Homo sapiens: one gene and its partners. Changing the gene in region 2 together with the main gene of any one other region gives a genetic interaction. Each region holds a gene or a part of one and is shown on either strand. Other genes may lie near its edges.

The links.
Region 1: changes in PTPRZ1 (region 2) and GPI together harm fitness more than expected from each alone (negative genetic interaction), as found in Homo sapiens cells (one large-scale study listed by BioGRID).
Region 3: changes in PTPRZ1 (region 2) and SLC16A5 together harm fitness more than expected from each alone (negative genetic interaction), as found in Homo sapiens cells (one large-scale study listed by BioGRID).

What each region holds. Positions count from the first base shown.
Region 1 is NC_000019.10:34,389,181-34,392,830, reverse strand, and holds part of GPI (glucose-6-phosphate isomerase), read right to left. Parts: intron 1-3,650. UniProt on the Homo sapiens protein: In the cytoplasm, catalyzes the conversion of glucose-6-phosphate to fructose-6-phosphate, the second step in glycolysis, and the reverse reaction during gluconeogenesis.
Region 2 is NC_000007.14:121,879,594-121,883,243, reverse strand, and holds part of PTPRZ1 (receptor-type tyrosine-protein phosphatase zeta isoform 1 precursor), read right to left. Parts: intron 1-3,650. UniProt on the Homo sapiens protein: Protein tyrosine phosphatase that negatively regulates oligodendrocyte precursor proliferation in the embryonic spinal cord. Required for normal differentiation of the precursor cells into mature, fully myelinating oligodendrocytes.
Region 3 is NC_000017.11:75,094,345-75,097,994, reverse strand, and holds part of SLC16A5 (monocarboxylate transporter 6), read right to left. Parts: intron 1-3,650. UniProt on the Homo sapiens protein: Proton-linked monocarboxylate transporter.

The DNA of each region.
Region 1 (3,650 bases), on a different chromosome or scaffold from region 2:
GGACACACCCAGATCCTCATACTCATACCAGATCCTACCTCCTCAGATATGGACAGACCCAGGGTCTCACACCCATGCCCAGCCTCACCTCCCCAGACACTGGCAGACCCAAGGCCTCATACCTGCACACAGCTTCAACTCTTTAGACATGGTCAGACCCAGATGCTCATGCCTGTGCCAGATCCTACCTCCTCAGACATTGAAAAACCCAGATCCTCATACCTGTATGAGATCCTACCTCCTCAGATACTGACAGACCCAGATCCTCATACCAGGGCCAGATCCTACTTCTTCAGACACTAGAAGACACAGACCCTCCTACCAGGGACAGATCCTACCTCCTCAAATACTGACAAACCCAGATCCTCATACCAGGGCCAGATCCAACCACTTCAGACACTGACAGACTCAGGTCTTCATACCTGTATCAGATGCTACCTCCTCAGACATAGACCCAGATCCTAATACCTGTATCAGATCCTACTTCCTCAGATACAGAGACATGAAGATCCTCACACCTGTACCAGATTCCTAATTCCTCAGACACTGACACACACACAGATCCTCATACCTGTACCAGATTCCTACCTCTTCAGATATTGACAGACTCAGATCCTCATAAGGGGGCCAGATCCAACCTCCTCAGAAATTGACAGACTGAGATCTTCTTACTAGGGCCAGATCCTACCTCCTCAGAAACTGACAGATGCAGATCCTCTTACCAGTGCCAGATCCTACCTCCTCAGACATTAACAGACCCAGATCCTCACACCTGTACCAGATCCTACCTTCTCAGACATTGAAAGACCCAGATCCTTATACCTGCACCAGATCCTACCTCCTCAGACATGAACAGAACCAAATCCTCATACTCATGCCAGATCTTACCTCCAGACATGACAGACCCAGATCCTCATACCTGTACCAGATACTGCCTCCTCAGACATTGACAGACCCAGATCCTCATGCTTATGCCAGATCCTACCTCCTCAGTCACTGACAGAACCAGATTCTCATAATTAATACCAGATCCCACCTCCTCAGACACTAGAAGATCCAGATTCTCATACCTGTGCCAAATGCCACCTCCTCAGACACCCGAAGACCCAGATCCTCACAACTGTACCAGATCCTACCTCCTCAGATACTGACAGACCCAGATCCTCATACATGTACCAAATTCCCACCTCTTCAGAAATTGACAGACCCGGATCCTCATACCAGGGACACATCCTACCTGCTCAGACATGGACAGACCCGGATTCTCATACCAGGGCCAGATCCTACCTCCTCAGACATTGACAGACCCAGATCCTCATACCTATAAGAGATCGTACCTCCTAAGTCACTGGAAGACACATCTCCTCATTCCTGTACCAGATGGTAACTCCTCAGACTTTGACAGACGCAGATCCTCATACCTGTACCAGATTCCTACCTCCTCTGATATTGACAGACCCAGATCCTCATTCCTGTACCAGATGGTAACTCCTCAGACATGGACAGTCCTAGATCCTCATACCAGGGCCAGATCTTACCTCCTTAGACATGGACAGACCCAGATCCTCATACCAGGACCCGATCCCACCTCCTCAGATACTGATGGACACAGATCCTCATACTTGTACCCAGCCTCACTTCCCCAGACACTAGAAGACTCAGGGCTTCATACCTGTGCCAGATGCTATCTCCTCAGGCACTGGAAGCCCAAGGGCCTCAAACCTGAGTCCAAACTCACCTCCTCAAACACTGGAAGACGCAGATCCTCATATCTGTGCCAGGTGCTACCTCCTCAGACATGGAAGACCCATATCCTCATACCTGTGCCAGGTGCTACCTACTCAGACACGGGAAGACCCAGATCCTCATACCTGTGCCAGGTGCTACCTCCTCAGACACAGGAAGACCCAGATCCTCATACCTGTGCCAGGTGCTACCTCCTCAGACACGGGAAGACCCAGATACTCATACCTGTGCCAGGTGCTACCTCCTCAGACACTGGAAGACCCAGATTCTCATACCTGTGCCAGGTGCTACCTCCTCAGACATGGAAGACCCATATCCTCATACCTGTGCCAGATGCTACCTCCTCAAACATTGGGAAGACCCAGATCCTCATACCTGTGCCAGGTGCTACCTTCTCAGACACAGGAAGACCCAGATTTCATACCTGTACTAGATGTTACCTCCTCAGACACCAGCAGACCCAGGGCCTCATACCTGTAACCTGCTGTTATCTCCTCAGACACCAGCAGACCCAGGGCCTCATACTTGTACCAGATCCTACCTCCTCACACACTGGAAGACCCAGATGTCATACCTGTACTTAGCCCACCTCCTTGGATACCTCTTCCAGCACCACATACCTGTACCAGGCCCTACTTCCATAGACACTTGCAGACCCAGAGCCCCTTACCGGTGCCAGGACCCACCTTCTCAGTCTCATACTTGTGCCCAGGTATGCTTCCTTGGACAATGAAAGACCCAGCAGCTCTCTGCTACACTTGGCTAGGTCTCCTCAGATATTAAAAACCCACAGCTACATTTCTGTTCCCCAGCCCACCTGCTTGAACAGTGGCCCAGTGCCTCATACTTGTGCCAGGCCCCACATCCTCAGATACTGACAAACCCAGATCCTCACACCTGTGCCATTCTTTGTTGAACAATGAAGACTCATCACTTTGTACCTGTGCCCATTCCCAACTCCTCAGGTGGTACTGACAGATCCAGAACCTTAGACCTGTGCCTCACCCCACCTCCTGGACACTGACAGGCCCAGTGGGTCATATCTGGGCTTGACCGATCTTCTCGGCCTATCACCTAGGCCTATCATTCACACTGCACCTTCTCAAGCCACACCTGCAAGCTCCACTTGGTGCCATCAGAGTCCTCAGAACTTCACGGATGTCTTCCTAACAGCTGTTTATGGAGCACCTCCCACATTTCTAGCACAGGCAACGGACACAGAGTGTGGGAGAGAGACGTACATCAAATAATCATGCCAATAAATGTGAAACTGAGAAACAAGTGCTGAGGAGAAATTGGAACATGGTGCTGAGGCCACTTATAAAAGGAACCTGAGGGGTACTTGACCCTTGATCTCAAGAACGAGCAGGCATGACCCAGAGAAGCACTGAGGGAGCATTCCAGCAGCCATAACAGCACATGCAAAGGTCCCGTGGCCAAAGCAGTCTTTCTCAAGCGTGACAGAATTAAGGCCCACAGAAAATGATCTGAGTGACTTCTCAGTTCTCCCAAGGATGGTCCAAGACTAGTAACCTTCTAGACACGAAGGAGAGGTGCCCACTTATTACATCCAGTAGATGCCTTGGGCTGTGAGGGCTTAATTCTCTCCTGGAAGCCCACTGAGGCAGGGGGAAGCATAGCACCTTCCAGAGGATAAAGGAAGGGGTGGGGACCGCAGGGTGGAAGCTGAGAGGCACGGTGGGAGGACTGAGAACAGTCTGCGGCTAAGACAAGGACAGAAGCAAACAAGCCACTTTGAAGCCCCGGAGATGGACTGGGGAGTGCAGAGGACTCATTCTGGGAGCTCTCCAGTGTGGCCGAGAGGTTTCTGGCTTGGGCAATGAGATGACCGGTGGGGCCACTCACTTGGAAAGGCTCTGGGTTTCCGGGAACCTTACCTGACA
Region 2 (3,650 bases):
AATCATTTTTAGCAGCACTATTTCCTCTTATTTCTACTCAAGGCACTGAGTTAATCTGTTCAGAGAAAATGTCTAGAGTCAATTACTGCCTTGTCTTAACAAATTTAAGAGTTTCACCATTCAATAAATAATCAGGTTTCAAGCGATCATCCTCTGTTTCTCTCTCTTCTTTCTTCCCTCCAAGTTATCAACTTCTGTGGACTTGTATGTATTTGCTACCTTCTCTTTTCCTTCCTGGATATTTCTCTGATTCCCTGTGTTCCATGCTACATCTTCACCTTCCCAGAGAAGACACTCCCTTAAGGATCACCAGTGACTCACTCCAGAGAATGGCACAATGTCCTACCAATTATACCAATTACATTCATATCAAGTGAGATAATGTATCTGAAAGTGCTTGTTAAACATTAAAGAATTCTATAAAGAGGATGATATTATTATATCCCAAATGATCTATAAATTTCCACTGTGACTGCCACCGTGTAAGAGGCTTTTAACCAAGCTTCCTGATTCCCTGTCTCCCTCGGCTTCAATCCATCCTATGCTCTGATACCTGAGTTATCTTCCTGAAATAAAGAGATCTATTCCAGTCATTTCACTGCTCAAAACCCTTTAGTAATTTCCCATTGTACAATGAGTAGATTTCAAACACAAAACTCTTCAATTGGCCATTGTAAATCCTACCTACCATTTGAGACCTTTTACTGTTATACTCCTCTCCCCACTGTCCCCTCCCTCCAATTACCACGTTCTCACTTTCAGTCCATGTTTCTCTGCATGCCAACCTTAATCCCTCTGATGCCTTCTGCTCCCATGGTGACCCCTGAAGCTCTATCCATTTATCCTGAATGGTCTATATCCAATCCCATCTCCTACTAGAAACCTTCTAAGAGGTGAATTTAAGACTAAATATATCTCCACACAGCTCACAGTCTCATATGCCAGAAACTCCATCATGTATGAGACCTACTTACGTATGCATCTTTCTATCTTGTAAAAGTTCAGCTGGCCATGAGAAGAATAGTCTCTCTGGAGGAATATTTATCCCAAGGAAGATGCTCAAAAATGATTCATTAAATTAATTTGTACTTGCATCATCACTAATAAGTATATTAAAGGAGTTATTTGAAACACCTAGAAAAGTTCATTGTTAATTTTTAAATGGAGTTATTGGTGCTTTTCAAATACAGTAAAAAGAAATAGCCTATACCTGATTAATAATTTCATAAAACACACAAATTGCTAAAATGAAAAAGCAATAGCTAAATCTTAATATTTATTTCATAACAGTAAACAAAAAGCCAAGTTCTAACAAATTATGCATGGAGAAAGAAAATAAATAACAGAGAACAAGAATATGTATCATTGATGAAATGAACGATATTATGTGCTTGTGTCTGGATAAATGTCACTTGGAGTCCCCATCTCGGAAGCTGGTTCATTTACCCTCCTACCAGCTGATAGACTTGAATCTTTGGACCCACTCCAAGACTGCCTGGCCTCCTAAAGTTTCCCTGGCTTTAAAAGACTATGAGGTCAATCACCATAGAGCATACTCCTCCTTCTAGGGTTACTCTGAAGCTGAAACTGCCTTAAGAAGAGAGAGAGAAGGGAAAATTTCCAGGACCTTTGTCTTGTGGCACTAGCTTTGTTTTAGGACAGCATAAGACCTGCAAATATCTCCACCTTAAGAAAAATGAACTAAGATTAGTAGTGTCATGAAGTTGGCCTAGATCTGTGGTTTCAGTCCCAGGCTGTGCTCTATAATCACCTGGAGAGTTTTAAGAAAATGTCCATGTCTGGGCTCAGCACCCATACATTATGAAGTACTTGATTTGATGCCCAGGCATCAGTATGATTTAAAAGTCTCCCAGGTGCATAGTCAGCTTGGGCTACTATAACAAAATACCATTTACTGGGTGGCTAACATAACAGACATTTATTTCTCACAGATATGGAGGCTGGGAAGTTTAAGATCAAAAGGCCAGCAGATTTGATTCCTGGCGAGGGCTCTCTTTCTGGATTGCAGATGGCTGCCTTCTTGCTGTGTCTTTACATGGTGAATAGAGAGAGGATTCTGGTCTTTTTCTCTTCTTATACAGACACTAAACCCATCAATGACAGCTTCACCCTCATGACCTAATTACCCTGCAAAGGCCCTGTCCCCAAATACGATCACAATGGCAGGTTAGGGCTTCAACATGAATTTTGGAGAGGACACAAACATTCAGTCCATAACACCAAGTAAGTTCAAAATGCAGCCAGGATTGAGAATTATCAACCTAGATAAATGGTTGTCAGCGTTTTTGTGCACTAAAACACACATGACAATAATATCCCACATGCTCCTCAAGGGTATCCTTATGCTCCTTTGGGCAGATCATGATTTTGCACAACTCTGTGTAGCAGCTGAGACAATACCACCTTGACATATCCTATTCAAGAAAATGTGTCAGAATGCAAGTGGGTAAAAATTTAATAATAGAAATAATTTTCAATCTGATGACAATATGAATAAAAACCATTAGAAAATCTAAAAACTTCCTTATATCTGGCCAGCATGTTCTAAGCATGTAATCAAGACTCTGTTTATTACCATGATCTCTGCTTAAAGGAGTCATTTTAAAAATCAATGTTTTATTTTATTCCTACTCAAGGTACTGAGTTAATCAGTTCAGAGAAAAGAGCTCATAGTGAGACCCATCCTTAGGTAAATACATTAGAGCTTTAGGATTCAAGAAATAGGCAGTTCAGTCAGTAACAGTGAAAAAGTAGAAAATTTATCCAGTAAGTGCTAAAGGGGAAGGCAGAGAGAGAGGGTAGAATGTTTCTCCAAGAGCAGGAAAATATCTGTATTCTCATCATAGTTATGGATATTCTAACAGAAAATCCTTCTTTCTTACTAATGAATAAATTATTTCCAAGTACCCAAGTACTACATTTCCAAGGAAACTTGTAAAAAAAACTATCCCCTGTTAGCATGCACATAAATTGACTTGTACTTATTGAATAAGGCCAAAAACTTCACATTAACCAGTACCCAAAATAACTGAGTTTACTTTAATATCTGTGGGCAAATATCAGAAGGGGAAAACAAAGACAATCAGCCCATTTTACCACACTGGAATATTTAGGCAAAAACATCTGCCAACTCATACTTTAAAAATTTTGTTAACTACAAAGACCCCCAAATGATATTAACACAGTAAAAATATTTTTAACTAATGGTTTCAAATAGCATTAATCTCTTCCCTATCAAACTTTTCATCAAGGTGCTGAGCAAACTTAAGTTTATTTAATTATCTTAAACTCATGCTAAAAGAAAGTGAAGCTGAAGAGGAAATAGCAACAAAAAAAGAAAAAGAAAAGAAGGAAGGATTAAAGGAATGAAGGATAAAAGGAGGAAGGGAGGGAAGAAGGGAGGAAAGGGGAAGGAAGGAAAAATAGAAGGAAGGAGGGAAAGAAAAAAGGAAGGGAGGAAGGTAGTTGAGAAGAAAATAAAGCAAATATCCTAACAAAAGATCATCTCCTTTTTTTCTGCTTTTGACTCCTATGAAGATTTTTAACTGATCCCATGTCCCATTCCATTTGAATTCAACTCAGTTCAAATATTTGCTATGTGCAGAGTTAAACTTGTGTAGCACATCCTC
Region 3 (3,650 bases), on a different chromosome or scaffold from region 2:
TGGCGGGAGAGGAGGAGAGTGGCTGGAGAGGGCAGTTCCAGCTGGAACTAGCCAGGTGGTTTCAAGGGCACGAGCAGGCCTGGATTCTGATACCCACCTGCCATGGACTGGCCATGTGGCCTGAGCAAAGCCTGATCCCTCTCCGTGCCTCAATTTTTTCCCCTACAAAGTGAGGATTCAGAATGGGCGATGTTTGACCCTGATGAGGATTCCCTGAAAGGTGGAGCAAGACCCTGAACTACACAGACCTGAGGCTGCTCATTCTATCCGGGTGAAACAGGATTGGTTCATGAGTTTACCTCCCCCACTTCGCTGGGGGTCTGTTGGTGGGAGGAGTCGGGGCAGTGTTCCAGGACATCTAGACTACAGTGTGCACCTTCAGATCCTGTTTTACCTGCCCCATCCCCACACCCAACATCCTCAGGAAGACTGGCTAGATCCCTCCCACCCTCCCACCACCTTCCCAGCCCTACAGCTGAGGGGAACCCTGGGCCCCTCTGCGCCTCCTTGCACTGGCCTCTGCAGACAATCAGGCAGGGTAGGTTCTCCCCTCCCACACCACCTCCAGCACCACCAAAGTCTGCACCTAGAGGTTTGGCTCAATGTGGAGGGGGGCCTGTTCCTTGCCTGGCTCCCAGCTGCTTTCTCACCAATCCACACCCCAAAAAAATAGAAAAGAGCTGCAGACTGCTCCTTGGCACCTCACAGGGGCCCCATTCACCCAAGCACATGTGGAGCTTCTCTAACTTACTCTCCGAGAGTGCAACTAAAGGGACAGGGAAGTGTGTGCGCATGAGATGCTTGTGTGTGTCTGCGGTGGAGGGGGGATGTGTGGTGTGAGCCAGTGTGAGTATAAAAGTGACAGAGTAGGCTGGGTGTGGTGGCTCACGCCTGTAATCCCAGTACTTTGGGAGGCCGAGGTGGGTGGATCACTTAAGGTCAGGAGTTCGAGACCAGCCTGACCAACATGGTGAAACCCCATCTCTACTAAAAATACAAAAATTAGCCAGGCATGGTGGTGCGTGCCTGTAATCCCAGCTACTTGGGAGGCTGAGGCAGGAGAATCGCTTGAACCTGGGAGGCAGAACCCGATGCGCTCCATCCTGGGCGACAGAGTGAAACTACATCTCAAAAAAAAAAAAAAAAAAAAAAAGTGATGGAGTGGCCATGCGTGGTGGCTCACGCCTGTAATCCCAGCACTTTGGGAGGCCGAGGCAGGTGGATCGCCTGAAGTCAGGAGTTCGAGACCAGCCTGGCTAACATGGTAAAACCCCATCTCTACTAAAAATACAAAAATTAGCCAGGTGTGGTGGCGCATGCCTGTAATTCCAAGCTACTAGGGAGGCTGAGGCAGGAGAATCGCTTGAACCCGGGAGGTGGAGGTTGCAGTGAGCCGAGACTGTGCCACTACACTCCAGCCTGGGTGAGAGAGGGAGGCTCCATCTCCGAAAAAAAAAAAAAAGAAAAAAGCAAGTGACAGACTAAGTGAGCAGCCCGTCGCAGACATAATCAAGCAGAGGCTGGTGGCCCGGCGTCTCTGCCCCTGTAGAGGGGGAGGTGGCTCTGGAGAGGACTGACCCACAGAGCTTCCTCACGCCAGAGACTCTGGCCTGACTTAGGGAAGTTGACATTGGGGAAAGCCCTTAGTCACAGGGGTGGGGGTGGGGACTGGGCTGCAGGCCAGAGCTGCATAGCTGAGGGTGGTGTGGCCGGGCGGGACACAGGGTGTTTCCTCTGCCGTGAACTCACTCTTCAGCCTTGGGCAGGTCTTGTGTTCTGTGCCTGCTTGCTTTCCTTACCTCTAAAAGGCGTAGGTAGGGGCAGGGGCACTTGAAAGGATCAGTGAAAGTATCCATGATTCATCGTGTTTAAAAATTTCTACAATACTGTGGTCAGGTGCCGTGGCTCATGTCTGTAATCCCAGCATTTTGAGAGGCCCAGGCAGGTAGATCACTTGAGCCCAGGAGTTTGAGACCAGCCTGAGCAACATAGTGAGACCCCGTCTCTACAAAAAGTAAAAAAATTAGCTGGGTATGGTCTGGGCGTGGTGGCTCACACCTGTAATCCCAGCACTTTGGGAGGCCAAGGCCAGCAGATCATGAGGTCAGGAGATCGAGACCATCCTGGCTAACACGGTGAAACCCCGTCTCTACTAAAAATACAAAAAATTAGCCAGGCATGGTGGTGCGCACCTGTAGTCCCAGCTACTCAGGAGGCTGAGGCAGGAGAATCGCTTGAACCTGGAAGGCGGAGGTTACAGCGAGCTGAGATTGCACCACTGCACTCCAGCCTGGGCAACAGAGCGAGACTCCATCTAAAAAAAAAAAAAATTAGCTGGGTGTGGTGGTGCACACCTGTGGTCCCAGCTACTCGGGAGGCTGAGGTGGCAGGATCGCTTGAGCTTGAGAGGTTAAGGCTGCAATAGGCTGTGATCATGCCACTGCACTCCAGCCCAGGTGACAGAGTGAGACTCTGTCTCAAAAATAAGCAAATAAATAAATAAACATAAAATAAAATGTCTACAGTACTCTGAATGAGCACGGGCTCATACACGTGTATGTGTACATGAGAGAGATGGCCAGCCAGGAATCCCATGCTGATGGAGATGCTGAGATGCCTGCTGGGGGTGGTGAGCCGCAAGTCAGCTGGGGAGTAGGTTCCCCGCCGGGTGCCCGGTTCCTAGCCCCTGGCCCAGGAACCCTGCTCTGCCTGTGTGAGAAGCAGCCCTCTGGGATTCCCACTCCCTGCCCCAACCCTGCAGGCCAGAGGCCATGTGGCAGATTCAGAGCTCACCCAGGAGGGTGGCGCTTTCTCCGAGCCTCACCTCCCTCCCAGTTTGAGGGCAGGACCTGGAATAATAGGCAGGCTGCTGGTGGCAAGTGGAGGGAGTAGCCAGGAGGTAGCCGGGGAGATGGGCAGCTGCGGCCAGCAGACACACGCCTGCAGAGGCCTGTGGGCCATCAGCTCGGGCTGCTGTCCACCGGGCCCCTCCGAGGCCGGGGTCTCTGCAGTCTCCCTGGAGAGCTCCCAGGAGCTGAGGGCAGGTCCCTGTGTCCACGGCGACTGCAGAGAACCCTCCCTCTGCCCTGCTCCCAACGCTGGGGTCAGGGTGAGGCAGTCACACTCCTGGAAAAGCCAGCCAGGAACATGGGCCTCTGAGGCCTATGGTGACAGAGCCAGGAGAAGGGGCAGACAGGGGCTGCCTTCCTCCCTCACCCCCACTTAGCAACCTCCTCTCTGCAGGGAGTCCCGGGAGAGCTGGGGCTCCTGCCTTGTCCCCCTCTTGTTCCTGGTGTCTTTTTTTTTTTTTGAGACAGTTTCACTCTTGTTGCCCAGGCTGGAGTGCAATGGCACCATCTCAGCTCACCGCAACCTCTGCCTCCTGGGTTCAAGAGATTCTCCTGCCTCAGCCTCCTGAGTAGCTGGGATTACAGGCACCCGCCACCACGCCCAGCTAATTTTGTATTTTCAGTAGAGACAGGGTTTCTCCATGTTGGTCAGGCTGGTCTCAAACTCCCGACCTCAGGTGATCTGACCGCCTCGGCCTCCCAAAGTGCTGGGATTACAGGCGTAAGCCATCGCGCCCGGCCATTCCTGGTGTCTTCCTTGCGTCCCCTTTCCTATCCTGAAGCCACTCCCTGCCCTAGTGA